2 linked regions of the Homo sapiens genome follow. The protein of the gene in region 1 interacts with the protein of each later gene in a pairwise test. Each region holds a gene or a part of one and is shown on either strand. Other genes may lie near its edges. The genes, in order: ITGB6 and FLNB.

The links.
Region 2: the proteins of ITGB6 (region 1) and FLNB interact in a two-hybrid assay, tested with the Homo sapiens proteins (one study listed by BioGRID).

What each region holds. Positions count from the first base shown.
Region 1 is NC_000002.12:160,096,432-160,111,800, reverse strand, and holds the end of ITGB6 (integrin beta-6 isoform a precursor), read left to right. Parts: intron 1-3,955; coding exon 3,956-4,122; intron 4,123-9,966; coding exon 9,967-10,065; 3' UTR 10,066-12,130; downstream 12,131-15,369. UniProt on the Homo sapiens protein: Integrin alpha-V:beta-6 (ITGAV:ITGB6) is a receptor for fibronectin and cytotactin. It recognizes the sequence R-G-D in its ligands. Internalization of integrin alpha-V/beta-6 via clathrin-mediated endocytosis promotes carcinoma cell invasion.
Region 2 is NC_000003.12:58,119,765-58,135,133, forward strand, and holds part of FLNB (filamin-B), read left to right. Parts: intron 1-1,476; coding exon 1,477-1,739; intron 1,740-3,328; coding exon 3,329-3,926; intron 3,927-4,567; coding exon 4,568-4,741; intron 4,742-5,816; coding exon 5,817-5,979; intron 5,980-6,837; coding exon 6,838-6,998; intron 6,999-10,976; coding exon 10,977-11,144; intron 11,145-12,162; coding exon of another isoform or gene 12,163-12,255; intron 12,256-13,043; coding exon 13,044-13,167; intron 13,168-14,851; coding exon 14,852-15,008; intron 15,009-15,369. UniProt on the Homo sapiens protein: Connects cell membrane constituents to the actin cytoskeleton. May promote orthogonal branching of actin filaments and links actin filaments to membrane glycoproteins. Anchors various transmembrane proteins to the actin cytoskeleton.

The sequences.
Region 1 (15,369 bases):
GGAGACCACCCTGGCCAACATGGTGAAACCCTGTCTCTACTAAAAATACAAAAATTAGCCGGGTATGGTGGCCTGCACCTATAATCCCAGCTACTTGGGAGGCTGAGGCAGGAGAATTGCTTGAGCCTGGGAGGTGTAGGTTGCGTTGATCCGAGATCGCGCCACTGCACAGAGTGAGACTCTGCCAAAAAAAAAAAAAAACAGCTAAGATGACTTGTAGTTGCAGCAGTCATCATCTTCCTGAAATCTGAAGATGATTGTGAACTTGGCCTTGAAGCTCAGGTATGCCGAGTGCCCCTGGAGTCTTGCTCTGGAAAAATCTCATGTAAATCAACTCCTTTGAAATGCATACATAAAATGAGTCTTGTGGCCGTTCATTAGGGAAACATAAGGAGAATCCTGCTGTATAAGGAGAAATTACTTTATAATACCAAAAAAGCCTGCCTGCTCATTATCTGTCTTACAAAATAAAATTCTCCAACTACACTCCCAACCCTCTGTGACTGTGGCAGTGACTTTAGCAAGTTATCTTGAAATCAAAGCCATCCCTTACAGTATTGATTCTATTGAAAAAAACGAGTTTCAAAAACAAAAACGAATTTCCAGAATAAGTCCTGCTTTTAATTCAGAGACTTTTGTATCTAGTTGGTGATTTTTTTTTTTTCAGTGAAACATGCCTTGGCTAAATGCCTCCTCATTACTGAGCTGTTGTCTGTTCTTTTATTCTTCCACACAATAAGAGTGGCACCACAACATGCCATTCTGCAGAGCACGCACAGATGCCCTGATGCTTTTTATTATGGCGTGTTATTATCCCCATGCTTTTGTAGTAGGGAAAAGTGAGGGGAAACATAACCTCCCGGAGGCTTAACAAGAGTCACCTGACAGCCTCCAGGCTCCCTCTTCCTCAACAAATGTCCGCATGGTTGGGTAGGCCTGGCACTTCCAGGGGCCAGCAGAGCAGAACCTGTCCCCAGAGGTCCATGGTCCCTCCTGTCTCCCGTCTCACAGCTTTCAGACTAGAAAATCCCAGGGTGGCCTGGTGGAGGCTTGGGTAGAAGAGGCAAACTGAGAAGTGAGAAAGGGGCTGATCCCCAGGGTCCTCTAAGCAAATTGAAAAAAAGAACTGAGTGAAGGGTCGCCACCAGGGTGCTTGTGGACACAGGTGGCTTCTTTCATCTTCTTTCTTTCCCCCACAGTCCGGAGGGACTTCCAGAGCATAAGAGCCACAACAGAGTCAAGGAATGATAGGCGGGAAGGCTTCCTGGCTGGAAAGTACCAGCTAGGGTAGATGCTATACCCACAGGTTCCAACTTGGAGGCTCCAGGCCCTTGAGGTGATGAGGATAGAAAAGGGGAAAGAGTGCTGTATTTGCTGTAACAATAGTAATATTAATTATTATAATAGCAGCTCTCATTTTTTGAGCCCTAATACCATTTGCCAGATGTTGTTTTATATATTTTACATGTATTAATTCGCTTAATATTCTTAACAACCATATAAAACAGGTACCACTATTATTTTCATTTTAAAGGTAAGGAAATTGAGGCATAGAGACATTAAATAATTTTCTAGGTCTGGCAGTAATTACGTGCCAGAGCTAGTTGGAGGAGCTCTGGCAGCCTGGCCTGGAGCCCCTGCTCTGAACCACTGTGCTCTACTGCCTCCTACTGGCTGTACAATCATCATAACTATCTGAATCACAAAAAGATGTTAGATCAGCATCATCCGACAGAACTGTTAGGCAAACCCTATATGTAATTTAAAATTTTCTAGTAATTACATTAAAAAGTAAAAGAAACAGGTAAAATGAATTTTATTTACGATGTTATCCAAAATATTGTCATTTCAACGTGTAATCAGTATAAAAGCTGAGATATTTTACATTTTTTTCATGCCAAGTGTTCAAAATCAGTGTGTATTTCACCCTTACAGCATAAGCTACTTGGGAAAAGTCACATTTCAAGCACTCAATATGCACATTGAGCTACCAGATTGTGCAACGCATGTAGCACAGTTAGATACTCAGGACCTTAGAAGTAGGTGCTGCACCAACCTGGACTCGATGGGCCACATTGCCCACAGTGATAGAGGTGACCCTCTTCTTCCACGTAGAAATCCATTTTCAGTCTGAGCATCTCAAGAAACATCCAAGTATGAAAAGTGATGATCTCTATTGTGTAAGACCTGCTCTGGCACTTGGGCCAACATCTTTAATTGAGAAATGTACAATTCCTGAGGACTTTCAGTTCTTAAAATAATTATCTCTGCCAGACCGCACCCATTTCTTCTTTAGTCCCTCCTGGAGAACCCTCCTAATTCATGTCTAGGTGCAGGATTGTAGCAAGCTTCATCTTGCTTTGAACAGGAACATACTATGCCCCACCCCAGGCATTTCTTAGCCAAAGATGTAGCCAGTATATATTCTCATGACACAGGCCTGCCGCTTTATTTGCAGGAATGTGCTCACCTATTAGAGGCAGCTATGGTTCATTTGCTATGCGAGAATATAGTCTTTAGATCTTCATACAGTAATAGCTATGTCATTAGCTCCTTTACTTATTTCTGCATAATCTCTTTACATGGTTTCTTGGCCAAAGAACAAAAGTGTGTGAGGCCAGGCATCATGCTGTTAGTGGGTAATTAGCCCCACTCAGATTCACATCAACTCCAGATCCTTACCTTAAAGACAGCATGACTAGTCATATGTGTATAACTCTCCTTATTAAATATCTAAAAGCAGTAAGACTTAGGATAAACTAAACATCATTCATTTCCTCCCCAGATCCCATGGATTTTGCCTCATTTCTTGCAGAGAGATGCAGATATCTAATGATAATTTTATGTGGGATTTTTTTTCCATGAAAGTAAGAGGAGAACATAATTATAATGTTTCATTAAGAAATGTATCATCTCCTAGGCATATTGCAAGGACTATTAGTCATTCTGCTGTGAATTAGGAAACGTACTGTATAATTGCAAAATTACATTAATATCTTCAATACAGTCAAAATAACATTTCATAGAATATTCAAGTTGAAAGTACCCTACAGAACATCTAATTTCCCAGACTTGCTTGAGGATAAGAATAATTTAGAATATTTAATAACACAGAATCGGTGGCTTATCCAAGACCCACTGAATCAGAATATTGGGGAAGGGGTCCAGGAAGCTGTGTTAGTAAGCAAGAACAGTTCAGCTTATTGGTATCATCAGAAAAGGTAAGGGAACACTGAACTTTGTTTTACAGAGGAAGGGCCTGGGGCTCAGAGAGGTCAAGGGACTGGATCACATTCACACAGCTACTGTACATCAGATGGGAATTGAATCTACCTCTCCTGAATCTAGTCTAGGAACTTCCCCAAAACCAGACTACTGCATTAGGGTTCAACAAAACAGAACTGAAACCCATCATTGTCTTCTGTCTATAAAGAAAGAAGGAAATAGTAATTTTTTCCAAGGGATAGGTTTTTATATAACTTTTAATATAGTCTTCTAGACTCCCCATGATTCAAGAAGGTCCATGAAAAACTGATGACATGCAGCACACACACACACACACACACACACACACACACACACACACTCCATTTCTGCTTTATCGTGAACTCAGAAGAGACCATGTTTAGTGATTAAACTAGTCTTTTTCTTAATCCTTTAAATATTCCATGTGCATTAATTATCACTCTTTTGGATTCTCTTTTAGAGTCAACCATCAAGTCTATATCCATTTACTTCAAATATCTAAATTCTTCCTTTATCTTTTGTTCTACTTTGAGGAATGCAGGGCTATTCTTCAACAAGTAACTCATTTTTAAAATTTAAGCAAGGCGAAAATGGTGTCAATATTTATCCTCTGCTGCAGAAAATGTAGATGAAAATCCAACAAGAAATGCCTTTCCGATGTCAAAATGTTGATTTTACCACCTTCTTATAATTTTCTTTATTTCTGCAGATTGTCCGAAGCCTCCAAACATTCCCATGATCATGTTAGGGGTTTCCCTGGCTATTCTTCTCATCGGGGTTGTCCTACTGTGCATCTGGAAGCTACTGGTGTCATTTCATGATCGTAAAGAAGTTGCCAAATTTGAAGCAGAACGATCAAAAGCCAAGTGGCAAACGGTATGTGGAAACTTAGGGCTACTCCTTGTCTAGGGGAGAAAGAGGCTGGTGGAAGAGATTGAGGGGCTCAGCTTTCTTCTGCTCTGGGAGTTCAAATGTCACATTTTTTCTCTCCCACTCTCGCCATGACTCCAACAGCTTTGATTTCTGTTCTGCTTCAGGGGCAAAGGTCCAGATGACCCTCATAGCTTATATTTGTCTTAGTGCGGTGGGGATTTCCACCACGATGAAGGGTCTCATGAGGCTCCTGAGACAGCTGCTTAGGGACATTGGGGAAGTATATTTTTACCCAGCGCTTCCTCACCACTAGGAGTATCCCTCAGGCCCCATTTGATAAAGCACGGGTGCTATATCTAAACATTTCCATAAATTGGTTATGTTATAATGAATGGAATAGTGTTCATAAATAGTACGATAATTCATGCCAATTTCTTTGGAAATACTTGTTTCTGATATAATAGGTTACAAAGCAAAATTGAGATGATTTTTAAAATGCCATGCAGTTATTTTTTCTGAATAACATAAATTTTAAACAGAGACCTGAAAAAAACCCCAAAAGTATTAACCTTTAAATACATAAACTCAACAGAAATAATTTAACTGCCTTCTCTTCACAAGAGGCAATCAGAAGGCAGGACTATAGTTTTCTGTGTTTCTTTTCCACAGGAGAGATAATTACATTTCTAGAGACCCATAGAAACAATTCCATAGTTTTAATTTCATCTCTCTATCTCTAATGGTGTGTCCAGGTATCTAACAGCAATTATCTTACATTGCTGATTCTAACAACAATGATATCACTGGAGAAAATACAGGTAGACGCAATGCTCCTTTGGATTTGTCCGCCCAAATAATTTGATGTTAACAATTTTTATAGCAATGCCTTCAACTCCTAAAGCAAATGGAATTTTCCATTTTTGATAAATTTATCTTGATAAGGGATGTTTCTGTTGTATGCGGTTATTCTAAATTAATGATAATACATGGTACAGGACAATGAACACTGAAAATTTTTATCTACTTTATCTTCCCATTAAAAATGCATTTAGATACAACAGCCAAATGCAATGTATGGATTTTGTTTGGATCGTGATTTGAACAGTCCACCTGTAAAAATACATTTTTAAAACAACTGGAAAAAGGCTGGGCATGGTGGCTCACACCGTAATCTTAGAACTTTGGGAGGCCAAGACAGGAGGATTGGATCACTTGAGCTCAGGAGTTCGAGTTGGGCAACATGGCAAAACCCATCCCTACAAAAAGAAATACAAAAATTAGCCAGGCATGGTGGTTCACACCTGTAGTCCCAGCTACTTGGGAGGCTAAGGCAGGAGGATCACTTGAGCCAGGAGGTCAAGGCTGCAGTGAGCCATGATCATGCCATTGCATTCCAGCCTAGGTGACAGAGTGAGCCCCAGTCTCCAAAATAAATAATAAATAAATACATAAAAAGACTGAAAAAAGATTAATACATGCTGGGTATTAGAATGATAGCAAATAAGTATGGTTAATTTGATTAGGTATGATAATGGCATGGTGACATTGCTAGAAAATATCCATATTTTTTAGAGATGCATACTGAAGGAGTGAAAGGAAATGAAAGCTGGGGTTCACTTTGAAATAATTCAGCCAAGAGAGTGGGATGGAGGGATAGTTGAAGCAGGTGTGGCAGAACTGTGATAACTGTGGAATCTGAGCGATGGGTCTTTGGAGGTTGGTTATATAGCTTTCCTCTTTTTGCGAATGTGTGTATTTTCCATAATTAAGCAAAATTCCTCAGGAGAAGATATAATTTACTCATCCCTAACAATGTAAAAGGTAAACAGGTTAGCTTGGTGACTTAGAACACAGTACTAATGAGCCCAAAGTTGTAGGACAGTTCACTTCACCTGACCCCTGGCCACAGATGTTATTTTTGACTTTCATCAACTCTCCAACAAATGCCTTGCCATGGTTAGAAGGGCAACCAGGTAAAAGAATATGGTTAAGTTGCCACAAAGGACAATAGCAGCAAGCCCCATGATATAATCCTGGTATTTCCATTTTGAAGAGCTAAACTAAGGCTCAGAGAAGTTAAGGGACTTCCCTAACTTTTGGTGCATGGTTAAGCTGAAGCCTAATTGTTCATTGTTCTTCTAAGCACAGCCTTTGGTTGACCCTCCTGGAAATAATAAGCAGGTGTTCCACAAACACGCACTTGGGCAATTATGTGATGTGTATCTACTAACCAGCACATTTCAATGTTCTCATACAGAGGCATAAATACTGACAAGTGATTAATATCTTTAAAATAACATTTTAATTAACAGTTAATTTCCCCAAAAACATGAATTGTTCTCCCTCAGGATGTAGAACATGACTGAAATTCAAATGCTGAATTTTTGCTGTTTCTTCATCTAACATGCGACCCGAACATGCATTAAACAGAAAAAAAAGCATAAATGGAAAATATTATTCCCTTATTAAATTGAGTTTCTTTGAATAACAAATGTTTGATGTTCCTGACTAGATAATGACTGGGTAGTAATTATTCACTTGGATGCAAAAAAGGTTTAACTCAAATAATTCAGTTTAAATTTCACTAACATCCTACTGGAAAAAAATGTCGCTCACTGCACACATTTAGGGGTCTTCAATTTAACTGAGTTTTTTCCCTAAAACCTATTTCTTCTTGAAGAAGTGAATTTGACTGGTCTTTGAAACCCAGTGCCCTCCAGAGACAATAGGGACAGTCAGGCCTCCTGGCCATAGGACTGCACTGGACTCATAAAGTGACAGGGCTTAAGACAGAAAGGTCTTCACTCCTACCTCCTAAAACATTTCAGAGCAGCTGTAAAGAAAGGTTATCTTTTTTATTATGCTTTAAAAAATAATGCCCACCCCCACATATTCTTTATGAAAACACAAATGAAACATATTTAAATTCATCTTTGATTAGAATTTTTTTTCTAGGATGACAAGTCATTAACTTGAGGCAAAAAAATGTTCAGCCTGACATTTCTTGCAGTCATGAATTGATTTTGTACTGTGCTAAGCAAATCAGGTCTGTGTTTGGCAGTTGGGCGATCATTAAGGAAGCTGTGGGTCATGACAGAGTTTTCCTATTACCACTTTTTCAATCTTGAAAAATGTGTCATTGCATTTGCAGAATCCACAGCCTAAATTAGCACTCCCAGACACCTGGGGGAATCAGCCTGGTAACCCCAAATGGTTAGGGGAAAACTGACCTTTTCTGAGCAGTGGATTGCACACTCACCCGAAATAGAGTAGGACTCAAGCCTGCATTTCAGCTGGAAAGTCTGTGTAGAGAGGTTACAATCAGCAGAGCACTAGAGGAGGCAGTGTGGACATTTCCACACCTCCTCCTGGAACAAAACCCAATGTGAGTGCATTATCCTGACCTCTGATCTTCAGCTGAGGCCAGGAAATACCCTATTACACACAACAGCAATATGTACTTGCTCTTCGTCCACTTTTACACTTCCACCTTACCCTCTTACTCTAGTGAAGTCTGCTTTACCCATCACTCCCTATAAGCAATGTCTTGGCCCTAAACCAGTATTGCAAGGGACTCCCAAAATATTGCAAACCTGAATGAATGAAGTTGCTTTAAAATACGGAATGAAAACTCTGCCATCAAAATTAAACATTCAACTAAATATCTACTAAATAACATTGTGTTATCTTGTCAACTGCAATTCAAGTCACCTCCTCTATAATGCATATCAGTTATATTAAGTGTGGGATATGGGTGTATTGTAGTATGTTTGACATGATATAGGGTGCACCTACAAACAAGTATCTGGTCCTACGGAGCTCTAAGCTGGCCCTGCTCACAGCCTGTGTCCTCTTTCCAAGTGTCTTTTCTGTTCACAAAGGTGGGAGCTTCCTGGAGGAAGTGGGAAATTCCTCCAGGACAGGCTTACCCTGTCATTGCTGGCCTGAACCTCTTACTTTTTTCCATCTTGTTTCTTCAATGGAGTCTCTCATTCTCCTGTAACCAACTAGATTCTAGTCTCAAATTTAATAGAATTCCATGCATGATTTTTGTTTGCAAATGAGACTCCATCTACATCTAAATTCACATCAGTCTGCCCTTTGCCTTCAAAATCTCAAATTCTTAGAGCAGCAAGACTAGATAAGATCTGGAGGTCCCTCAGAATTAACCAGGCTGCTCTCAGGAATAGAAGCAATATACCAACTTAGCTTTCACCCATCATCCACCACCAGCCAAGGAACATTTTTCTGTTTGGCTTTATTATAGAAATAGCATATCTCTTTAAAGGCACATAACAAAAGTAGCATGTCACTTAGTCAGAGGTCAGGCCACTGGCTCTGGACAACATAGAAATGGGTGCAGGTGTGATTCCCACTCACAATGAGGGCACTGAGGCCAGTGAGTGGGAAAGACCGGGGAGTGTTTCCGATTTTATTCAATTCTTTTAAGAGCTGAAAGAAATATACTGAGCAAGCAAAGACAATTAAGGTTTTTTTTCAAATCCACCCCTAGAAATTTCTACCATAGCTATAATTCATGGAATGAGGTGATCAAAGTATAAGATTTTAACTTAGAAGGTCAGAGGCGGTACCTGGATTCCATACATACTCAGTAATGGGCTTAGAAATGTTAAGTGTACCAAAGCCCTGGGGGAAAATATCTTAATAATCCTCTCTAAAACCTAAAAGAAAAGGAAATTCCAAATGTGAAGAAAAGCTATAAATAGGAACTAATGAGAAGAGGCAGCATTTATGGAGCATTTGCTATGTGCTACACACAGTGCTAAAATACTTTACCTGGACGAGGTAGGAACAGATAGGGACACCAAGGCTCAGAGTGTCTTCAGTACGGTCATGTGGTGGAGCTGGGTTTGGACCCAGACTGTTGCCATAGCCTGTGTGATCAGCCTTGGAAAGTGGGAGAGAAGAAACTGTACCTTACCCAGACACCTTCCTCCGGCCTGGAACAACTAGAGAGGCTTGATCCTTCTGGACCTTCTGGTCCTTTTGGCTACAGCACCACTGCTATTGGCACCTGGAGGCACATCTATAACCCAAACAGCACAGCTGAGCTACCCAAGAGTCCCACACCCAACCTTCCCACTGCCCCCAAGGCAAAGCCATTTTTCCTGGCCTGCCTTTGGACTGCAACTCTTTCATGACCCCAGGGTCCTCCATACCAGTCTCTTGTGGTTGTCTTACACAGTGTTGTACATAGTAAGCAAAAGACAGCTGGTTCTTTGGCTACCCAGGGCAAGTGTTAGCTGTCCAGAGGATGGTTCCTCACTCCTCCCAAGCAACTACTTTCTCCCACTTCTGAGTTTTGATTTCATCTTAGCATGATTATTTGTGCCCTTCTTTGATGCCTCTCATGAGTAACACGTTTGTTAAAGGCAGATACTGTGTCGTTCATTTTTGTATGTTCCTACTGGTTTCACTTTTCCTGTTTTTTACTTTTTTGGCTTTGATTTCACTTTTGGTTCATCTGTCACTGTTCATGCCACTCATTCCATACATACTGAGTACCTGCTTTGGGCCAGGGACTCAGTGCTGGGAAAACAGCAGTGAGCACAACAGCTGAAGCCTTGTTTTCTATCCGTAAATTTGTGCATTACCAAAAGAGGTAAGATTTTTAGAATATACATATGGGACTTGTTCTGTATATTTAACAAAATGAAAATGTATAAATTGCAAAACACTAAACATATGAAATGCCAAATTAATCAAAATTGTTCTAATGGTTTCCAAGACTGAGCTTGACTCTCCTCTTCCAATTTGCACTACGTATTAAAACAGTATAAAAACAAAATATACATACTTTCACTTGAATCTTTTTTTTTTTTCCAGGGAACCAATCCACTCTACAGAGGATCCACAAGTACTTTTAAAAATGTAACTTATAAACACAGGGAAAAACAAAAGGTAGACCTTTCCACAGATTGCTAGAACTACTTTATGCATGAAAAAAGTCTGTTTCACTGATATGAAATGTTAATGCACTATTTAATTTTTTTCTCTTTGTTGCTTCAAAATGAGGTTGGTTTAAGATAATAATAGGACATCTGCAGATAAGTCATCCTCTACATGAAGGTGACAGACTGTTGGCAGTTTCAAAATAATCAAGAAGAGAAATATCCTTAGCAAAGAGATGACTTTGGGGATCATTTGAGGAATACTAACTCTGTTGCATTAATGCTTCAAAAAATCATCAAATGATTCATGGGGGCCTGATTTGCATTTGAAAAATGTTTGAAATTAGAGTCTCATTTGTTTCAGGAATGCAGCTACCTGAGTTTTTTGTCTCGGCAAAGTCACAAAGCCCATATACTCACATTGTGTGTCTATACTTGCCAATTAATTCTAAACTTGTAGGAAATATGCCCTCTCTTAAAGGAGAATTTTTTTTAAATCTCTGAGAAATGAGATTCTGAGTTTATTTCAGCTAAAAGGTTGCAATTCTTCTGAAGATATCTCAAATATAAGGTTGAAAGTTAAGTGTTAATAATTTTTGTGAATTTATACACACCTAAACGTTAAGTACACAAATATTTTATTTGTTTTACAAATAAGGAATAAGTAATTTATAAATTAAGAAGTTACCTATAAAAATAAAAAGATAACAACCCTATCATATAGCTTATTTTTAAATTACCTGAAAAACGATATTCTACACTGTTTCCTTTTTGACTCTGAGTTTTCAAACTGTTACTTCTCCCATATTTCTCAATCCATTTCACTCAGTTGCACAGTCTTTTAAACCCTGTAATTGTCATACCAAAGTTTCTTTTTAAAAAAAAATTACTTTAAATGCTTAGTTTATTCAAAGAGCGATCCAATAATATAAAAGGAACATGTGTTAAACACAATAAAATTTTAAATGGCTCTAAATCAAGCACATCAAGAGTATACAAGTCTTAAAGGCTTTTTAATACATACTCTTTTCCCATCTATGTAACCCAACTTGCACATTTCAGCTGCATGTGGTGAATATGCATCATATATTTACTTTAAGAGGTAAGATTTTACTTGCAAAATACATGTGCAAATTAGGGATCCATCAGTTGATGGAAGAGATGGACTCTAGAATATTATTTCTTGTGGTTATTACTCCTTTACAAAGCACTTTCGTCTCACTTGATCCTCATAAGGAAACTAAGGCTCAGAATGAGTAGAGCTGGGTTCAGAATCTAGCTCTTCTAACTCCAAGCCATCTCCTCTTTCCACTGCAGGAAACTGCCTCTTTTGTCAGTGAAATAATAGAAAGATTGTGTTAGTTAAGTGATAACTGTCATTTGTTTGAAAATGTTCGAGACTGAACAAATAGCATTTAAACTGCTGGCATATAGATGAGATATTGTACTTTTGTGCAATGTTTATTACCTTTGATTAAATTGTAATGTGAAGCTTTTACTAGGTGAATAGTTCATTATGTAGTGGAGGCTTCGTGGTTGTCCATTGAATTGTCACAGCAAAATCTATAAGTTTCTTCAATTCTACAAGATAGATCCATATACCTTTGATCACTTGGAGACTCTTTTTTTGCTGGTTTCTAGATAACTCAGGTAAATCAGACCTTTACAGAGTACAGGGCTAGGTGAAAGAATTACTGAAAAATCACCTTGAAAATCCGAAGGGCTGATATACCCTTTATGTTCCTGACTGATGCGCAGAACCTGGGGGAAATCTACAGCAATATACAGGTTGCAATGCTGATAACACAACAGCAATCCTCTCCTCTACGTGGACTTACTGTTGTTTTTTTAATTATTATTGGAATGGGATTTTAGAAAATAGAAGTTACCTTTGTGTGTGTTTTAGGGAAGGTAGAGAAGAATCTGCTCTTTCTCTGAATACTGTTTTGACCCCAGGCAGGACCTTGGAAAGGCCAAAACATTAACAGTAGTACTTCTGTTCACTGAAGAGTTATGTTACATGAAGATAAAATGGTTTTGTCGTGTTTATTATTGTATTTTGTGTTGATATAAATAAACATGGTAATTTAAACAATGAACCTTAGATGGATGATAGTTTCTTTTATTTGCTTGGCACAAAACCCTCTTCTTGGATTTCTGGATTCCTCTGTGACCTGTTCTGACTGCCTTGATGGTCTTGGTCTGGGGCCAAGGAGAAGAGCAAAAGGAGGCAGCCACAGAAGGCAAGAGACAGCAGGGAGCGGGCCTGGACATCACCATTTTGTAAAGTCAAGTTCTTTAGAGTTAGTGCTATAAACTGAAATGTATCACCTTCCACCCCCAATAGCCCCTGTCCCCCCAAAATTCATGTATTGAAGTCTTAACCCCCAGTAGCTGAGACTATAACTGTGCTTAGAAATAGAGCCTTTAAAGAGATAATTAAAGGCCGGGCACGATGGCTCATGCCTGTAATCCCAACACTTTGGGAGGCTGATGCAGGCAGATCACAAGGTCAGGAGTTCGAGACCAGCATGGCCAACATAGTGAAACCCCGTCTCTACTAAAAATACAAAAATTAGACAGGTATGGTGGCAGGCGCCTATAGTCCCAGCTACTTGGGAGGCTGAGGCAGGAGAATCACTTGAACCCAGGAAGCAGAGGTTGCAGTTGGCTGAGACCACGCCATTGCACTCCAGCCTGGGTGACAGAGTGAGACTCCATCTCAAAAAAAAAAAAAAAAAAAAAAAAGAGAGATAATTAAAATAAGGCGATGGAGTTGAGCCCTGGTCCACTATGACTAGTGTCCTTATAAGAAGAGGAGATTAGGACACAGACATAAGGAAAACCATGTGAAGATACAGGGAGAGGGTGGCCAACTACAAGCCACGGAGAGAGGCCTCATAAGAAACCAACCCAGTTGCCACCTGCACCCTGGACTTCTGGCCCCCAGAACTGAGGGAAAATAAATTCCTGTTGTGGAAGCCCCCTAGTCTGTGGTGCTCTGCTCAGCAGCCTGAGCACACTCACGCGCTCAGGGAGTCTATTCTTCTGCACATCCATTTGTTCGGTGTCATGGTGCCATGCTTATCTTCTAAATCAGGAAAATGAAGCACAAAGAGACCAAATGCTGGAAAAAGGAGTCAATTTAATCTTTCTCTTAGGCCCATTTCTTACAAGAAGACAGGCAAAGTCAAATCAAGAGTACTTATATTCTGAAACACACTGTCTCTTGTAAACTAAAGGCCAAATGTCTGAAAATAGAGAAACAGCTCCCATTTTGAATAGCACCAAGAAAGTCCCTTCTCGTCTTAATTTTTCCATCTGGGAGGTGGAATTCTTGTGTCTTCTAGCAGCTATAACAATTCCTGACACAGTAGCAACTCAATAAATTCATTCAACAAATATTTATTGAATGCCTGGTATATGCCAGACACTGTTCTTATGACTGTGGATACAGTGAACAATGAGCAAAACAAGTAATCTCTATGCTTCCAAATGAGAGAGAAAATAATAAACAAGTAAATATACATTATCAGGGTCCTGGACCCAGTTTGTGCAGACCCCAGATCCACTTGGTCCCACCTGCCTTCCAGGCCTATGCCAGGAGTTACCCCAGCACCAACCTGCACAGTCTCCTTGGTAGTAAAACCCCAGCTTCTTCCTAACTCCTAACAGGTTAAGGAGCTGCTGCAATTCCTGTGCCCAAGTCCAGAATGGCTTCCCTAGCTGCTGCCCCAAGGGACCACATAAGACAACAGGGAGGTTCAGGGGAGTCAACACTCTGAAGAATGAATGTAGATCCATAAGAGACAGAGATAAGAAGGAACCAGCAGATGAACAGGAGATGAGCCACCAGCGATGTCTTCTGGGGAAGCAGTGGCCAGCTTCCAAATGCCTCACCTTGTACCTGCGTTCCCTCATTAGCTGCCTCCCTGCCCTTTTTCACTGGGCTAGCACCCCTCAATAAAACATTAGCACATAACCTTGCTCGGGTTCTTATTATATAAGAAGACTGGACTAAGACTGTCTAACCGTCCTAAGAACTATGCAGAAAATAAAGCAGGACAAAAAGCTACACAATGCCCTGTGAGAGTGCACCCTTAGAAAGAGTTGTAATTTCTTTTATTTTTATTTGTTTATTTTTTTGAGACAGAGTCTCACTCTGTCACCCAGAATGGAGTGCAGTGGCATGATCTCAGCTCACTGCAATTTCCGCCTTCTGGGAAAGTGAATCCAAAAGTGAATTGCTCTAGACAGGGCAAAGGGTGGAAAACTTGATCTTCTGTCTTTTCATTTGGTTACACAACCAGCAAGGGAGCAACATGGCACCCCAGAAGTTTTGCATCCCATGAGCTCTCCTGGAGCTAGGTCCTGGGAGAGGCCTGACAGTCAAAGACACAGATTTGACCACCATTACCCCACCCCCCACTCTTTGGTGTCATTGACTTGGCAAGACTTCACAAATCCCATGGAGGATCTAGTTCAGTTTGAAATTTTAATCTGACCTTTGCAATTTCCAGGTATGTAGTTTATGAAAGAACTGCTCAAATAGTATTTGTTTTTTTGGCCTAAAATGTATTTACATTTATGGTCTTGCATATTAATCAATCCTGTTCTAGGTCAATATCCGAAGCTCCGTATCAAGGAACTCTGTTGTTTGTCAATAACTGACCCAATGAAAAGTTTATTTTTTTAATCCAGTTGACTTTGCTATGCATAATATAGATGTGTGTGTATGTGTATATGTAAATACATACATATATATTTCTTATTTCAATAGCTATATCTTACTAGCATTAAAGAGCTTGCATTGTTAATAAAAATTAGGGTTAACTGAATGTTGTGCACATGTACTCTAGAACTTGGGGTATAATAATAATAATAAAAAAGAAAAAACAAAAATAAAATCAATCAAAAGCTCAAAAAAATTAGGGTTAAAAGAAAAACATTAGATGAATTAATTTTAACAGAGTTTAATTGAGCAATTCACAAATTGGGCAGTTCCTCAACCAGAGTAGGTTCAGAGTGACTCAGGCAGTGCTGTGTGGTCGGAGAGGATTTACGGACAGAAAAGGGAAAGCAAGGTACAGAAAACAGAATTGACATGCAGAAACAGATTGGTTACAGTTCTGCATTTGCCCTATTTGAACACGATTTGATCAGTTGGCCACCTACACGTGGTTGAAGTATGGCTTCTGTGATGGGCTGAGACTTGGTTACTCATTACAAAAGTAGGTTACAGTCTGTTTCCACACCCAGTTAGGTTACATCATTATATATGGAGAAACCTTTAGGCCAAATTTACCAAGAGGCAGATTTAAGCTAAACCTAATTTGAC
Region 2 (15,369 bases), on another chromosome or scaffold:
TTAACCAAAGTTTTCAATTCAGTTTCTGTTCTTCCAGATCTTCTCTCTGCATCTATACATATAGATGTGCCTGTGGAACACATTTGGCTGTATTTATTTTGCATTAAAGTTGCCCTGCTGTATAAACCTACTTCTTCGGCCTGCCTTCCAACAGTGCATCTCGGGAATCATTCACTCCTACATCTTTTCCGTCTGTGTTTACTGCTGAGTGGCTCCAGACTGGATGTACCTCAGGGCTCACATTCACCTGGTTTCAGGCTTACTGAGGCAGGGCTGAGTGCATACCCCCAGGACGGGGCCTCCTGTATTCACCTGTGAGGGTTTCTCCAGAGTACCACTAGCAGTGCCATTAGTGAGCATCTTCCTTCACTCGTGACCCAAGTGCACAAGTTGCAAGCAAGGCCAGCTCCCAGTTGCAGAGATCCAAAGTGAGAGCTCACTGTTGGCTTTTGTGGCTGGAGCAGCCAGCTCTGAGTGTGTAAACGTCCACTGCCCAACCCTGTCATGTGTCCCCTTGTCACTCCTTTCCCCAAGACACTGAGAGCTTTGACTCCAGAACAGGAAAAGCAGGGTGCCAATTAGGAAAGCCTCTTTTCCGGTGGGAAGTAGCGATCCGGGACCTCCTTGCCTGTGGTTCGGCAGTGTCCATCTTGCCAGGCCCTATGTTCCTTCAGAGTCAAGGTTCTCTGGGTTGTGGCAGGGGCCCTGTGTTCCCAGTGCTTTTGTTTTGGGTAAAGTCCTTTCCCTGTTCTTGTCTAATCTAACACTTGGGCTTCCTGCAGCCCTGCTTTGCAGAGACCTTTTGGAAACCATCACGGTACAGTCAGTTCTCAGCACTTGCTTCAATCGGCTCGCATTTGGCAGCTCTGTGACTTCTGCTTTCTTGAGGGGGAGGGGTGCCTATAAGATGGAGTTGGCTGCCAAGAATTAGTAAATAAAACATTGACTTATGAGGGTGTTTGGATATCAAGTTAACACCAAAAGTAAGTAAATAAGAGACGACAGTGTCAGATTACAACTTTCTGGTCAGCAAAGATTGTGGGGTCAGGTAAATTTCACTTTGAGTCCCAGCTTGGCAGGCTGCTGCATATGTCACCCTGGACAAGTTACTTAACCTCTCTGAGCATCAGTTTCCCCATCTGTGAAAGCCATTGGTTAATAATAAATACCCCATAGGATTGTGGTGAAAATTAAGACAATAACCTATTTGTGCTTGGCATATAAAATGCATTCAGTAAATGATAGCCGTTATTGCTGTCATCACTAATTGATTATTGTGCCGACACTTGTTGTTACTGAGGCTGAGATGCTGATGATACTTACTCAGCTTTGCTGCTTGTCCTCTGCAGCAGCTGTTGCTTACAGTGGAGGCTGAGATAAGTCCCCGTGTCCAAAGAACCATTGCTTCTGTGCTCTGGATTGTTCCTGCTGCTGAAAAGGGTCAGCTCTTCACCTCAGCTTGTGTTTCTTTTCCAGGGGTGGAAGTTGGGAAGGATCAGGAGTTCACCGTTGATACCAGGGGGGCAGGAGGCCAGGGGAAGCTGGACGTGACAATCCTCAGCCCCTCTCGGAAGGTCGTGCCATGCCTAGTGACACCTGTGACAGGCCGGGAGAACAGCACGGCCAAGTTCATCCCTCGGGAGGAGGGGCTGTATGCTGTAGACGTGACCTACGATGGACACCCTGTGCCCGGGAGCCCCTACACAGTGGAGGCCTCGCTGCCACCAGATCCCAGCAAGGTCAGCCTTTGCTTTTGTCCCAGAACTTGTCTCATTGCTGTCAAACATGACACCATAGTCCTTCTCTGGTTCTTCCTGGCAAAGACCTTCTGAAAATCGTTTTGTGATGAAAGTTAGCACAATTCACTGTGAAAGGTCCCCTGGGTAGGTGGGTCACAACCCTGCTCCTCCTCTTGCTCTCTGACTACAAGACTTTGGTGAGGGGCTCCCTGTCCCAGAGTCTTCTTTCTTCGCTTGTTAGCATAATCACAGTCCTCACTACAAAGCCAGCCTGTAAGGGGTAGGTGAGTTAGCAAACGTGGAGGCCTCTGCCCAGCACCCAGCTCACAGACGGAGCTCACCCTCCAGAAGCTAGAATCATGTAATATAAAAATACATTATTCTGGCCAGGCGCGGTGGCTCATGCCTGTAATCCCAGCACTTTGGGAGGCCGAGGCGGGCGGATCATGAGGTCAGGAGATCAAGACCATCCTGGCTACCACGGTGAAACCCCGTCTCCACTAAAAATACAAAAAATTAGCTGGGCATGGTGGCGGGCACCTGTAGTCCCAGCTACTCGGGAGGCTGAGGCAGGAGAATGGTGTGAACCTGGGAGGCGGAGCTTGCAGTGAGCTGAGATCACACCACTGCACTCCAGCCTGGGCGACAGAGCAAGACTCCGTCTCAAAAAAAAAAAAAAAAAAACCACAAAAAAAAACATTATTCTTGGCTGGGCGCAGCGGCTCACGCCTGTAATCACTGCACTTTGGGAGGCCAAGGTGGATGGATAACTTGAGGTCAGGAGTTTGAGACCAACCTGGCCAACATGGTGAAACCCCATCTCTACTAAAAATACAAAGATTAGCTGGGTGTGGTGACGCATGCCTGTAATCCCAGCTACTCGGGAGGCTGAGGTGGGATAATCGCTTGAACCTGGGAGGCAGAGGTTGCAGTGAGCTGAGATTGTGCCACTGCACTCCAGCCTGGGCAACAGAGTGAGATTCCGTCCCCTCCAAAAAAAAAAAAAAAAGTTCATCGTCATTTCTTCATAGTAACCCTGACTCAAGGGGTTTTGGAAGATTTCCAGTGGTCTCAATGGTGTGAATCCTATGAAGGTGTCTTATTTGTTGAATTAGAGGTGAAAGCCTCCTTCCTCACTCTTTTTTAGAAACAGTTTAGTTTTATTATTATGCAGAATTTGTTGAGCAAATTGCAACAGCCCAAGCCACAGCTAGCTCCACAAGAGCCCTTCCATGAGCCCTCAACCTGGGATCTCGTGTATCTTTGTTGGAATGGACATTAGGTTTCCAAGTCCAGGCCTGTGATTTAGAAGGGTCAGGTTGGGTAGGAGAGAGGAGAGTCTTGGAGGGGCTGCTCCATGGGGGTCACACCTCTCTCCTGTGGGTTTTCGCTGGTGATTGAGTTCTGAGGCATTTGCTGCATTGACTGTTGTAGCTTTAACTCGTGTGCACGTGTGACACATAAAGCCCCAAGAGAAGGGCTGCCTGGCTCAGATGCACTTCCATGCTGATTATATGCATGGGTGTTGAAAGCAGTGCTGGCTGAGCAGCGATCCCAGTGCAGTTTGACTTTATTCTTTGCTCAAATAGGTGAAGGCCCACGGTCCCGGCCTCGAAGGTGGTCTCGTGGGCAAGCCTGCCGAGTTCACCATCGATACCAAAGGAGCTGGTACTGGAGGTCTGGGCTTAACGGTGGAAGGTCCGTGCGAGGCCAAAATCGAGTGCTCCGACAATGGTGATGGGACCTGCTCCGTCTCTTACCTTCCCACAAAACCCGGGGAGTACTTCGTCAACATCCTCTTTGAAGAAGTCCACATACCTGGGTCTCCCTTCAAAGCTGACATTGAAATGCCCTTTGACCCCTCTAAAGTCGTGGCATCGGGGCCAGGTCTCGAGCACGGGAAGGTGGGTGAAGCTGGCCTCCTTAGCGTCGACTGCTCGGAAGCGGGACCGGGGGCCCTGGGCCTGGAAGCTGTCTCGGACTCGGGAACAAAAGCCGAAGTCAGTATTCAGAACAACAAAGATGGCACCTACGCGGTGACCTACGTGCCCCTGACGGCCGGCATGTACACGTTGACCATGAAGTATGGTGGCGAACTCGTGCCACACTTCCCCGCCCGGGTCAAGGTGGAGCCCGCCGTGGACACCAGCAGGATCAAAGTCTTTGGACCAGGAATAGAAGGGAAAGGTGGGTTTCATTTAAAAAAAAAAAAAAAAAAAAAAAGACAAGCTGGGACTTAAGGGCTACCTGAAACTTGGAGCTGCAAACTCAGCCACCTGCAGGAGCCAGGTGACATATAAGGCGGTGCTCACCTGTTCCCTCTGCCTCGGGGAGTAGTTGGGGGGCCCTGGTGAAGGTTAAGCACATTGCATTTCTGGGGACCGTGCTACTCAACCCCTGTTTTCTGTTTCTCCATGGGGAACAGGACCTAGCATTGTCAGCAGAATCTCTAGTTTTTTGGCAAAGGCAGAAATCTTGATTTTTCTCTGGAAACTCAACATACAACATGTTGGCATTTAATTGGAAAAAAGTTTAAAATGTAGTGTTGTCTAACACCTGCATGCCACACAGCAGGTTAGTCTTCAACCTTTAACCTGTCCTCGAGCCCGGTGTGAGCAGTCGTGTTGTCACTTAGCCGTGGCTACTCTAGAAAGGCCTTCTTTGGGATGGAGGGGGTTAATATTCTTGATTTGAGAGTTAGAAAAACCAGTTTTCCAGTTACTGAAATTGGACTTCATGTGTCCTGAAGTGCCAAGAACCTTGGTTCTGGGGTTTGCTTTTGGGTCTGGGGTACTGGTGGCAGTGTTAGCTATGTGCTTGCTCTGCAGATGTGTTCCGGGAAGCTACCACCGACTTTACAGTTGACTCTCGGCCGCTGACCCAGGTTGGGGGTGACCACATCAAGGCCCACATTGCCAACCCCTCAGGGGCCTCCACCGAGTGCTTTGTCACAGACAATGCGGATGGGACCTACCAGGTGGAATACACACCCTTTGAGAAAGGTGAGCCGCCCTGTCCTCGGACTGGACCCTCGTTCAGAGCTGCCCTTGGTCATTGCCTCCTGGTGGCTGGTACTGATGCCTGCCCCATGTGCTAGGCCTGTCTCAGCAGGGCCACGTGCAGAGTGACAGAGTGGAAGTCAGCGTCCGCTGCAGTCACCTGCCCACTCAGTGCCTGGCTTGCTGGCCTTGTGTAATAGGTGGGCTGGGTTTAGCCTCAGTCTCACCTCAGCAAGTTATGGGGTAATGTCATGATGTTGCTCATTTGTGCCATTTTTCTTTGCGTATGAATTTCTTTCTTCTTGAGTATTAGGAATTATAAAAAATTTCAATAAATAGAAAACCATAAAGAAAAAAAAGTGCCATGTATATCTCCACTACCTGGAGATCGGAAGCCTGCGATATTCTGATATAGATATTTTCAGTCTTCTTGTGGATGCCTGTTTCTTCTGTTTCACGGGTTTCGCTTTTTCTTTTGGTTAATGGCTGGATGGTGTTTTCCCGAATGAGAGTAGTCTGTTTAGGATGACTGACTTGAATATTTGCTTGGTTGGGGTGGAGTGGCTTATGTGACTGCAGATAGACGGTTTGTATTATTTAAAAGTCAGATCATACCTACATTACTGTGGGATTGTTTTGTTTTGTTTTGAAACAGGATGTCACTCTGTTGCCCAGGCTGGAGTGCAGTGGTGTGATCACGGCTCACTGCAGGCTCAACCTCCTGGGCTCAAATGATCCTCCTGCCTCAGCCCCCTGAGTAGCTGGAACTGCAGGTGTGCACCACCACACTCAGCTAATTTTTGTATTTTTTGTAGAGATGGGGTCTCGCCATGTTGCCCAGGCTGGTCTTGAACTCCTGGACTCAAGTGATCTACCCACCTCGGCCTCCCAAAGTGCTGGGATTATAGGTGTAAGCCACTGCCCCCAGCCACATTACTGTGTTTTTAACCCCCTTTTCCAAATAACATAGTATAGCATGCAGACTTCGATGCTAGATGAAACTCTGAAGTAGAGAATCATTTTTCACAAATAGGGGATTTGTATGCAAATATGCGTTTCTGTTTGTTGTTTTGAGCAGGTCTCCATGTAGTGGAGGTGACATATGATGACGTGCCTATCCCAAACAGTCCCTTCAAGGTGGCTGTCACTGAAGGCTGCCAGCCATCTAGGGTGCAAGCCCAAGGACCTGGATTGAAAGAGGCCTTTACCAACAAGCCCAATGTCTTCACCGTGGTTACCAGGTAGGCAAGGCCCTACATTTGGTGTCTTGAGTCTCACTTTTGTGGCTAGATTCTACCTATGTGTCATGGTTTCCTAACTTTTGATAAGATGAATTTTTATTTTTATAACATGTATTTCCTTCTGTAGAGACTTATGTTACATAGAAAGACCAAGCATACCTAAAAAACATACCAAAGCACTTGATAATGGTCATGAAACTATTTAGCAAACCAGGAGTCAATCAAGCTCTATAACTTGATAATGTAAAAATTTGTAGCCAACCTTGTAAGTATTTTTATTAAAGTTGGTTGCAAGGCATATGCCTGCGTTGTACTTGCAGTCCTAGCCAGTGCAATTAGATAAGAAAAATAGGCTGGGTGTGGCGGCTCACACCTGTAATCTCAGCACTTCAGGTGGCCGAGACGGGACAATTGCTTGAGGCCAGGAGTTTGAGACCAGCCTGGCCAACATGGCAAAACCCCATCCCTACAAGAAATATAAAAATTAGCTGGGCTTGGTAGTACACGCCTGTAATCCCAGCTACTACTTGGGAGGCTGAGGCATGTGAATTGCTTGAACCCAAGAGACATAGGTTGCAGTGAGCCGAGACCGCGCCACTGCACTCCAGCCTGGGCAATGGAGTGAGACTCTGTCTCAGGAAAAAGAAAAATAAATGAAGCATAAGCATTGAAAATGAGGGGTCAGAGTGTCTTTACTTACATTATACTAATGTGAAATTCCCTATGTGAGAGGTGTAGTAATTGAGTTGGGGTGGCTACGTGGAATAGTTTATAAAGGGAATTTGCATGAATTTTGGCAATAAGCAGACCAGCATAAATAAATGGTGCACATTTCACTTTCTTTTCCACTCTTTCCAGAGGCGCAGGAATTGGTGGGCTTGGCATAACTGTTGAGGGACCATCAGAGTCGAAGATAAATTGCAGAGACAACAAGGATGGCAGCTGCAGTGCTGAGTACATTCCTTTCGCACCGGGGGATTACGATGTTAATATCACATATGGAGGAGCCCACATCCCCGGTGAGCTATTCCTCAGAGAGGACCCCAGAGAATAATTGATTTTGCAGGAAAATGGGTTTGATTTTGGTTATCTCTCTGAGTGGGGAAAACAATCTGATATTTGTAATAGCTGCAAAAGGAGAGTTTTTCTTAGGGCTACATCTCCAAGATTATCTCAACTCCCAGTAGAACCGGTAACATGGCAAAAAGCATCGGCTTAGAATTTTGACTGGAAACAGTTGTGCGTGTGTTGGAGGACCTAGTTCTTGATTCAGGGGAAAGCTGGTTCTTTACAAAGTTGAAAATCACAGTGGCTCACACCTGTAATCCCCAAACTTTGGGAGGCCAAGGCATGCAGATTGCTTCAGGTCAGGAGTTTGAGACCAGCCCAGGCAACATGGGGAATCCCCATCTTTACAAGAAATACAAAACTTAGCTGAGTGTGATGGTGCGTGCCTGTAATCCTAGCTATGTGGGGTGGGGGCTGTGATGGGACGATGTCTGAGATGGGAGCCTGGGAGGTTGAGTGAGCTGAGATTGCGCCACTGCGCTCCAGCTTGGGTGACAGAGGAAGACCCTGTCTCAAAAAAAAAAAAAAAGAAAAAGAAAGAAAATTTCTACCTTATTTTGTGCTTGGCTCCTTATTCATGTGTCTTGGTTTCTTTTTTTTCACTGACAATACTAGTAGCTGATCAAGATATGCAGATTCAAATTCTTTCTTTTGTATTTAGTGATGTCATGTGTAATCACTGTGAAACACGGTTTCTCAACTCCGGCACTATGACACTTTGGGCTAGATGATTCTTTGTGGTGTGGGGCTGTCCTGTTCATTGTAGACTTTTGTCAGCATCCCTGCCCTGTACCTGCTAGATGCCCATAGCAGACTTCTCCTTCCCCATTCTTATTTGTGGCAACCAAAAATGTCTCCATATCTTGCCAGATGTCTTAAGGGACAAAATCACTTCAGCCTGAACCACTGCTGTAAAGATTCAAACAATAAATAAATATATGACTTAAGTAGTGAAAGACCCTCCTCCATTTGTTTTGGGGGGAGGACTCTCCATAGGTTCTAGTTATCTACTCAAATGATTGTCACCCCCACACATTTTATTTATTTATTTCAATAGCTTTGGGGTACAAGTCGTTTGTGGTTACATGGATGAATTCTATAGTGGTGAATTCTGAGACCACCTCCCCCGCCCCCATTTCTAAAAGGGCAGGCAAGTGTGTGGTGTGGACAGAAGACCGAGGGCTGGGGCTGTTCTGGGCCACTTATGCCTTGTCTTAGGTGTGGTGTGAAGAGGGCAAAGCCCCACCCCAGGACCCCAGGAGCAGAAAGAGCCTCAGCGGGGTCTTGTTCTTCTTTCTCTGGGTCACGCTGAGAGGGGAAGGGCAGGTTGAGGGGCCCACTGCTGGGTTCTGGGTTAACTCTCAGGCAGCTGGAGTGTCCACTGACCACACGCTTTCCTGATTCCATTCCTGCTTCCCCCTTACCACATGGAAATGTGCACACACACTCACACTCACTCTCTCTCACACTGATCAGAAAGTATTGACATTCAACTCAGACTGATTCTACTCAGATACTCATTTAAGCCTCAAGTCATTTAAAACAACATGTTTCTCCTCAAACTTGTGCTTGCGGCTCATTCAATATAGATTTAAAAAATTCCTATAATCACTAGTCTAGGGGACTTCAGCTGTGGGCAAGACAAAGTTCCTGCCCTCAGGGAGCTTACTGTCTAGGGCTTTTACAACTAAAACTTGTGATGACTGCTATGAAGAATGAGAATGGGGCTCGGTGACAGAATTCAGAGCTACGGGCTTGTTTTGGAGTTTTGTAACACTTGCGTTAGGAGAGAGTTGGGCACAGGAAACGGGTAGAAGGCTGCTCCCAGGAGGGGTGATGTGGCTCCGACCTGGCAGGCAACAGTGGAGATGAACATCTCCTGTGGCAATGAAACTTTTTGACTATGGGGAAAGGCTGGTGAGTGCCACCAGCTTCCGAATCCCCCTTACAGAAAGGGGTCAGAGTTTGTCCCCTGTGGCCGACCTGTGAGCTTAAAGCAAATGGTCGTCTTTGAGCATAACAACAGAAAGACACTCATTTGTGGTTTTCCCATCAGGTGTGGATGGTGCCTTTTTATGTTTCAGGCTCTCTGTTGCCTCCCAGAGAGCCAAATGCCGGCTTTTCCAGAACCCCAGAACTTTCCCAGGCAGAGATATTTAGTGAAGTGTTGGTTGGTTTTCTAAGCATCAGGCTTCTTAGCTAAGGCAACCTATGGGGGTACTGCCGGGAAACAGTCGGCTACCTGCCACCTTCTAATTTGCTTTCATGGTAATTCTGGGTGCTTAAATATTAGCCTAGTTTTTCCTGGCCTGGTTAAAAACCCGGAGTGGAGTTATTTTTAACAACGTGTCCTGTCTTACCCGTAATGGCATGTTGATTTCCTGTGGTAGGCCAGCTGTGGTTGGTTGGTGGCGGCTCCCTAGACCACTGGATTGACTGGGGTTCAGAGTGCATGAGGAAGAAGATCTGGCATGAGGGAATGGTGACATGTGTCTGGGCATGGAACAGGGGAGTGGCGGATAATGCTTGGGGTCTGCCATCTTGGACAGTTTATCTTACCCGGGTTTGTTGGTTTTTGGCTACTCTCATGCTGAGCTCAGACAACTTCTAGTGGAGGCTCTGACTTAAAGATTGGCCTCAGAGGTAGTCCCTTGCCATCAGCTGTTGACATTGAAATCCTCAACTGTCACTCTCTAAAGTAAAGCCCCCTTTTGTTCCTCTCACCCCAGTGTGGAGGCCTGTGCTTGTTTGCCAGGGCCAGCCATTTATTTCACGTAGCTAAAGACCTGGATGCCGTTGAAACCCAGCTGTTGTTAGAAAGCCAGGGACTCAATTCTTTGTGTGTCTTGGCTGTCTACCATCTCTAATTCTACAAAGTATAAATTCTCTGGGATGCAAAGCAGAGATCCCTCAGCTTTCACGGCAGTCATTAACTTTGCCAGATACCATGGGGAGCACCAGGACTCCCATGCGAGGCAGAGGTGCACGTAGCCCCTTGGTGATGGGCGTGGTAGCCTGAGGCATGCTGCCGTTCGCTGGATGGGGAGGTCCCCCTCCACAGTGGAGTCCATGAGTGTCCTTGGCCTAGCCCTTGTTTCTCTGTTTAGCACTTCTCTAGCAAATCACTATCTCCTCTCCTCGACTCCTCTGTGCTTCATCTTTAAAACTGACACCCTCAAGGAGTCAGAGGCCCTCAGGGTCCCCCGGGGGGTCAGCCATGTAGCAGGAGCTCAGCTTACACTCAGGAAGACGGCAAGGCTTCACCAGGTGGCCGAGTGACCGAGAAGGCTGAGTGTGGTCAGAAGGTGCCAGCTGCATTGGAGGGAGAGGAGTCTGGGGGACACACAGGAGCCATGTGTGGGGGACAGGGCTGGATGTGGGCTGCAGGGCCTGCCCATCTCTCTCCGTTCTGTTGTTCCACCACTTGGCTTCCTCCTTCAGTTGCTCCAGCAGCCTGTCTCCTCCCTCGCCTCTAGGCTCCTGCATGTGCTGAGGCCTCTCTACTTGAAGCACCTCTCTGTCTGCTCCCTCTTGTGCCGCAACTGAGATGTTACTGGAAAGCTTTCTCTGGTCTCCCGCAGACCAGGTTAATTGCCTCCTGAGTGCTCCACCTTCCACACCCCAAATATGTTATGTAGGATGTTAGAGTGACTTGCTTGCCTCATCCTTCTCCTGCAGTTGTGGGTTCCTGGGGGGTGTTAACCGCTCAGGATCCAGCACGTGGCACAACATCTGCACGTAGTAGGTGTTCTGTGAGAATGGTTGACAACAATGAGTAGGCACATGAGCAGTGCACACAGTGAGGCAGGGGGAGCTGACCGAGGCCTGCATGGCCGAGGTCCCGGGGGAGCAGCAGTGCTATTCTGGGTGTGCACAAGGTGGTCTCCAATTCCCAGCTTGTGCTCAGAATCCCACAACCTCTCTTCCAGGCAGCCCCTTCAGGGTTCCTGTGAAGGATGTTGTGGACCCCAGCAAGGTCAAGATTGCCGGCCCCGGGCTGGGCTCAGGCGTCCGAGCCCGTGTCCTGCAGTCCTTCACGGTGGACAGCAGCAAGGCTGGCCTGGCTCCGCTGGAAGTGAGGGTTCTGGGCCCACGAGGTAAGTGTGCACCCTGCCTTCCTGCAGACATTCATCTGCCCCAGGCAGGGGCAGCTGTAACCCAGAGCAGATGCTTTGCTTTTGAGTTTGCTCATGAGCTTAAAATTAAATTAAAAAAAATTATTGTTTCATTTCTAGTTAAACAGTAGAAATTCCTGCTTACAAGTAAGCAGGCTTGTTATTTCTCCAGTGATCTGTCCCCCCATTTAATAATATGGCTATCAATTTCTTAGAGGAAGCAGCAGTATTTGGGCTGTCATATGTAATATGGTGGCGACTGTTTCATTATGTGTTTCAGCATTTGTGAGGGGGTGGGTTGCTCTGGATGTGGCAGATGGTGGGGTTTGGAGGTGATAACTCATTGAGATATCTTGGTGTCCATGTGGTACATACCAGAACCTCTGGGAATGCCAGGCACATGATGCACGTGATACGTGGCTTTGTCATTGTCTTAGTTCCCCAGAGAGAGAGTGTGTCTTGGGGAATGGGCTTTGTTGGCAATTTGGCCTGCCTTGTTGGCAGCTTGGAACTTGGGTTTGGTAAGGCTAGCGGGCCATATAGGGACAAAGCCCTGAAGTGCATTGGAACTTGCCTTTTTTGATAAGTGACCATGTTTCCTCCTCCAGCACTTAAAATGTGCCTTTCTCCCACATAGAGGACAGTGTGCCTAATTTCTTACGTAATCTGGATTTTCCTCGCCAATGATATGTTCTTGGATTCACAGAAGTGGCAAATGGGGTTTTCCCTCTTTGAAGAGGAACCTTCTCCTTCATGGGGTTCAGCAGGAGGTTTTATCTTTTGAAGCTCAGGGCAGAAATGGTTTGGGGGAAATTAGGTCATGGGTCTGGGATCAGATTCTGTGAAGTTACTGAGCTTCAGGACCTGCATGTGTTTGTGTGCATGTATGTGTCCCTGTGTATGTGTGAATGAGAGAGGGAGAAAAAGAAGAAAGAGAAGCTTTACTTGGATATCTGCCTCTATTATGAAGGACTCTCAAGTAACAGCCTTTTGATTTTAGCTGACGACACGGATTCCCAGTCATGGCGCAGCCCCTTGAAAGCCCTTTCAGAGTTCTTTAAAGGTGACCCGAAGGGTGACTTTAATAAGACAGGTTTGCATTTTCCCATGGCTGCTGAATTATGTAACCCAAATGCTTCTTGCTGGCCTCACTTCTAAAATTGCTTACACCTGCCTCATCTGCTTTGCTTAATGAGCATGCCATCCTTTGATTAACCTACCCTGGAGTTGACCCATCCTTGACTGTCACGTTGGAAGCTGGGATCTGGACTCTGCAACCCAACGCGTGCCTTGATTATGTTTTAGCATAATCTCTAACATCTCCACAGGCTTCACCTTGAGGGTCCCCTTGCCCCATGAGATTGGCACCCTCACCTGCCCTGCACCTATGCCCCAGCATGCTGGTACCACAGTGTTCTTTGCTCAAAGGTGGCCACAAGTCTTGACTAGCCAGCCCATTGGTTAATTTTTGCTCTTCACAATTCTGGACTCTTTGGCAGTGTCTCAGCTGTAGAGTAAAATTGCCACATCCTAAGCGTGCCTAACCAGCTTGAAAGGTTATATTGTGTCTTCAACACACATCATCCACATACACCCTCCAGCAGCAAGCACAGGCAGTCTCCTTAATTATACTCTAGGGCAGACTGAGTGTATTTTAGCCAACAAAAAGCTAAAGGTGTCTCTCGGGGTCATTTCTGCAACCATGAATTGGGGATCCTGTGATTTTTTTCAGGCCTGTGATTATGGTTGCTGGCCTTTTTGTTACTCATCAGTGGAAACCAATAGCTCTTGGGGATGGATGTGGTCCTATTTCAGACTCAGCCAAGGGTGGAGTAAAGGTGAGGCCAGGCAGCTCCTTAAACCTCTCATCTCTGTCCTCAGGCTTGGTGGAGCCAGTGAACGTGGTGGACAATGGAGATGGCACACACACAGTAACCTACACCCCATCTCAGGAGGGACCTTACATGGTCTCAGTTAAATATGCTGATGAAGAGATTCCTCGCAGGTAAGCTCCATCCATCTGCCCATCCATTCCTCCATCAGTCTATCTGTCCACCCATCCATTCCTCCATCAGTCCATCCACCCATCCGTTCCTCCATCATTCCATCCATCCACTCATCCATTCCTCCATCAGTCCATCCATCCACCCATCCATTCCTCCATCAGTCCATCCATCCATCCATTCTTTCATCATTCCATCCATCCACCCATCCATTCCTCCATCAGTCCGTCTACCCATTCATAGAGGCAGCAAGTATTACATAGAACCTGCAACTTGTCACCACACACTAGCCTTGATATTTGTGGCTCCCGCTCTCTCACTCCCCCAGTTCCTTTCAGACATCTTTAGTTTAAAGGTGAGCTGAAATTAAGAAGTTGGAAATCCTAACCACGTGTGGTGGGATTCGCCTGTAATCCCAGCTACTTGGGAGACTGAGATGAGAGGATCACTTGAGCCCAAGAGTTTGAGGCCAGCCTGGGCAACATAGACCCTCCCCTGACATCTCTGGAAAAAAAAAAAAAAAAAAAAAAAAAAAAGCAATAGTAGTAGACAATCATTGATGAAATAAATAATTTATTAGTTTATTAGAGGCTTCCTTTTGGTGTTTTGGTGAACCTGCAAGTAGTTTTCTGATTGGGACAGGACAAAGGTCTTTACTTCAGGGTTTGCTTGATAAAAGCATTTCCAAAAGGTTTTACATAGAAACCTTGTTCCTTGTTGATATTAATACAAAAAAAAATGTTACATAAGCTCTTCACCTCTTGGAACAATCTCTAAGGGTTTTCTTTTCTTTTTTTAAAAAATCATGCCCCTTAAGATGAAAAACTTTCACCCATATCCCCTAACACATATTTTATATAGAGATAAGCATATTAGCTCTATGTAGAAATATGTAATTTATAAATTACATTTGTATATTGCTTTACTAATATACCATGTACCATATGAAGCATACTATAGAATAATTATAGATACAGAATATAGAATAAGATGAGATATAAATATTAAAACTGAAGTTCCAGTATTCTCTTTCCATTTGGTGACCATGATCTTAGCATAACAAAAGTGGGGTAAATGTGTTTAACCCTGTGTTTCCCAAACTAATTTGTGAACTCTTCCTCCCCAAACTACTTGTATCCCTTGGAACAGAGGTCCCCAACCCTTGGAGCGTGGACTGGTGTGGGTGCACGGCATGTTAGGAATTGGGCCGCACGGTGGTGGGTGAGCCATCATTACTGCCTGAGCCCTGCCTCCTGTCAGATCAGCAGCTGCATTAGATTCTCATAGGAGTGCGAACCCTATTGTGAACTGCACATGAGAAGGATCTAGATTGCACACTCCTTGTGAGAATCTAACTAGTGCCTGATGATCTGAGGTGGAACAGTTTTATCCTGAAAGCATTCCCCCACCAGGCCCCCTGGTCTTCTACGAAACCAGTCCCTAGTGCCAAAAAGGTTGGGGACCGCTGCCTTGGAACACACTCAGGACAAAACCAGTCTGTCATATGATGGTTACTACCTCATAGTTGTAAATTTCTGCTAGACTTAGGCACCTTGACTAACTCACTGTCTTATCTGCTGTAGAAATCCCCTTTTCCATCCCACTCTTATGTGTAAGAAAAGTCAGATGCAGCTGGGTTGACATGTATCTTTATTGACTAGGGTGTGTGTGTGTGTGTCTATCAAGTCCCTTCAAGGTCAAGGTCCTTCCCACATATGATGCCAGCAAAGTGACTGCCAGTGGCCCCGGCCTTAGTTCCTATGGTGTGCCTGCCAGTCTACCTGTGGACTTTGCAATTGATGCCCGAGATGCCGGGGAAGGCCTGCTTGCTGTTCAAATAACGGTAACTTGGAGTTATTTTCTGAGCCAAACCTTAATCCTAAGACTTAATTTCTGGGCCAGATTTAAGAACAAGGGTTTCAATAACCGATTTCTGACTCAATGCAAGTTGTTTGTTAGATTTTCCCACCAAAGAGTCAGTAAATGTGCAGAAGCAGAAGCAGCTCACCTGAGAGATTTGAGGGTGTAGCTCCAAGAACCACTTTTTGGTGAATTTTCATGTTTTTTTACTACATCTATTCCTATGTTTTTATTTTTATTTTTTTTAAAGATGGGGTTTCACCATGTTGCCCAATCTGGTCTTGAACTCTCTTGGGTTCAAGCAGTCTGCCTGCCTCAACCTCCCAAAGTGCTGGGATTGCAGA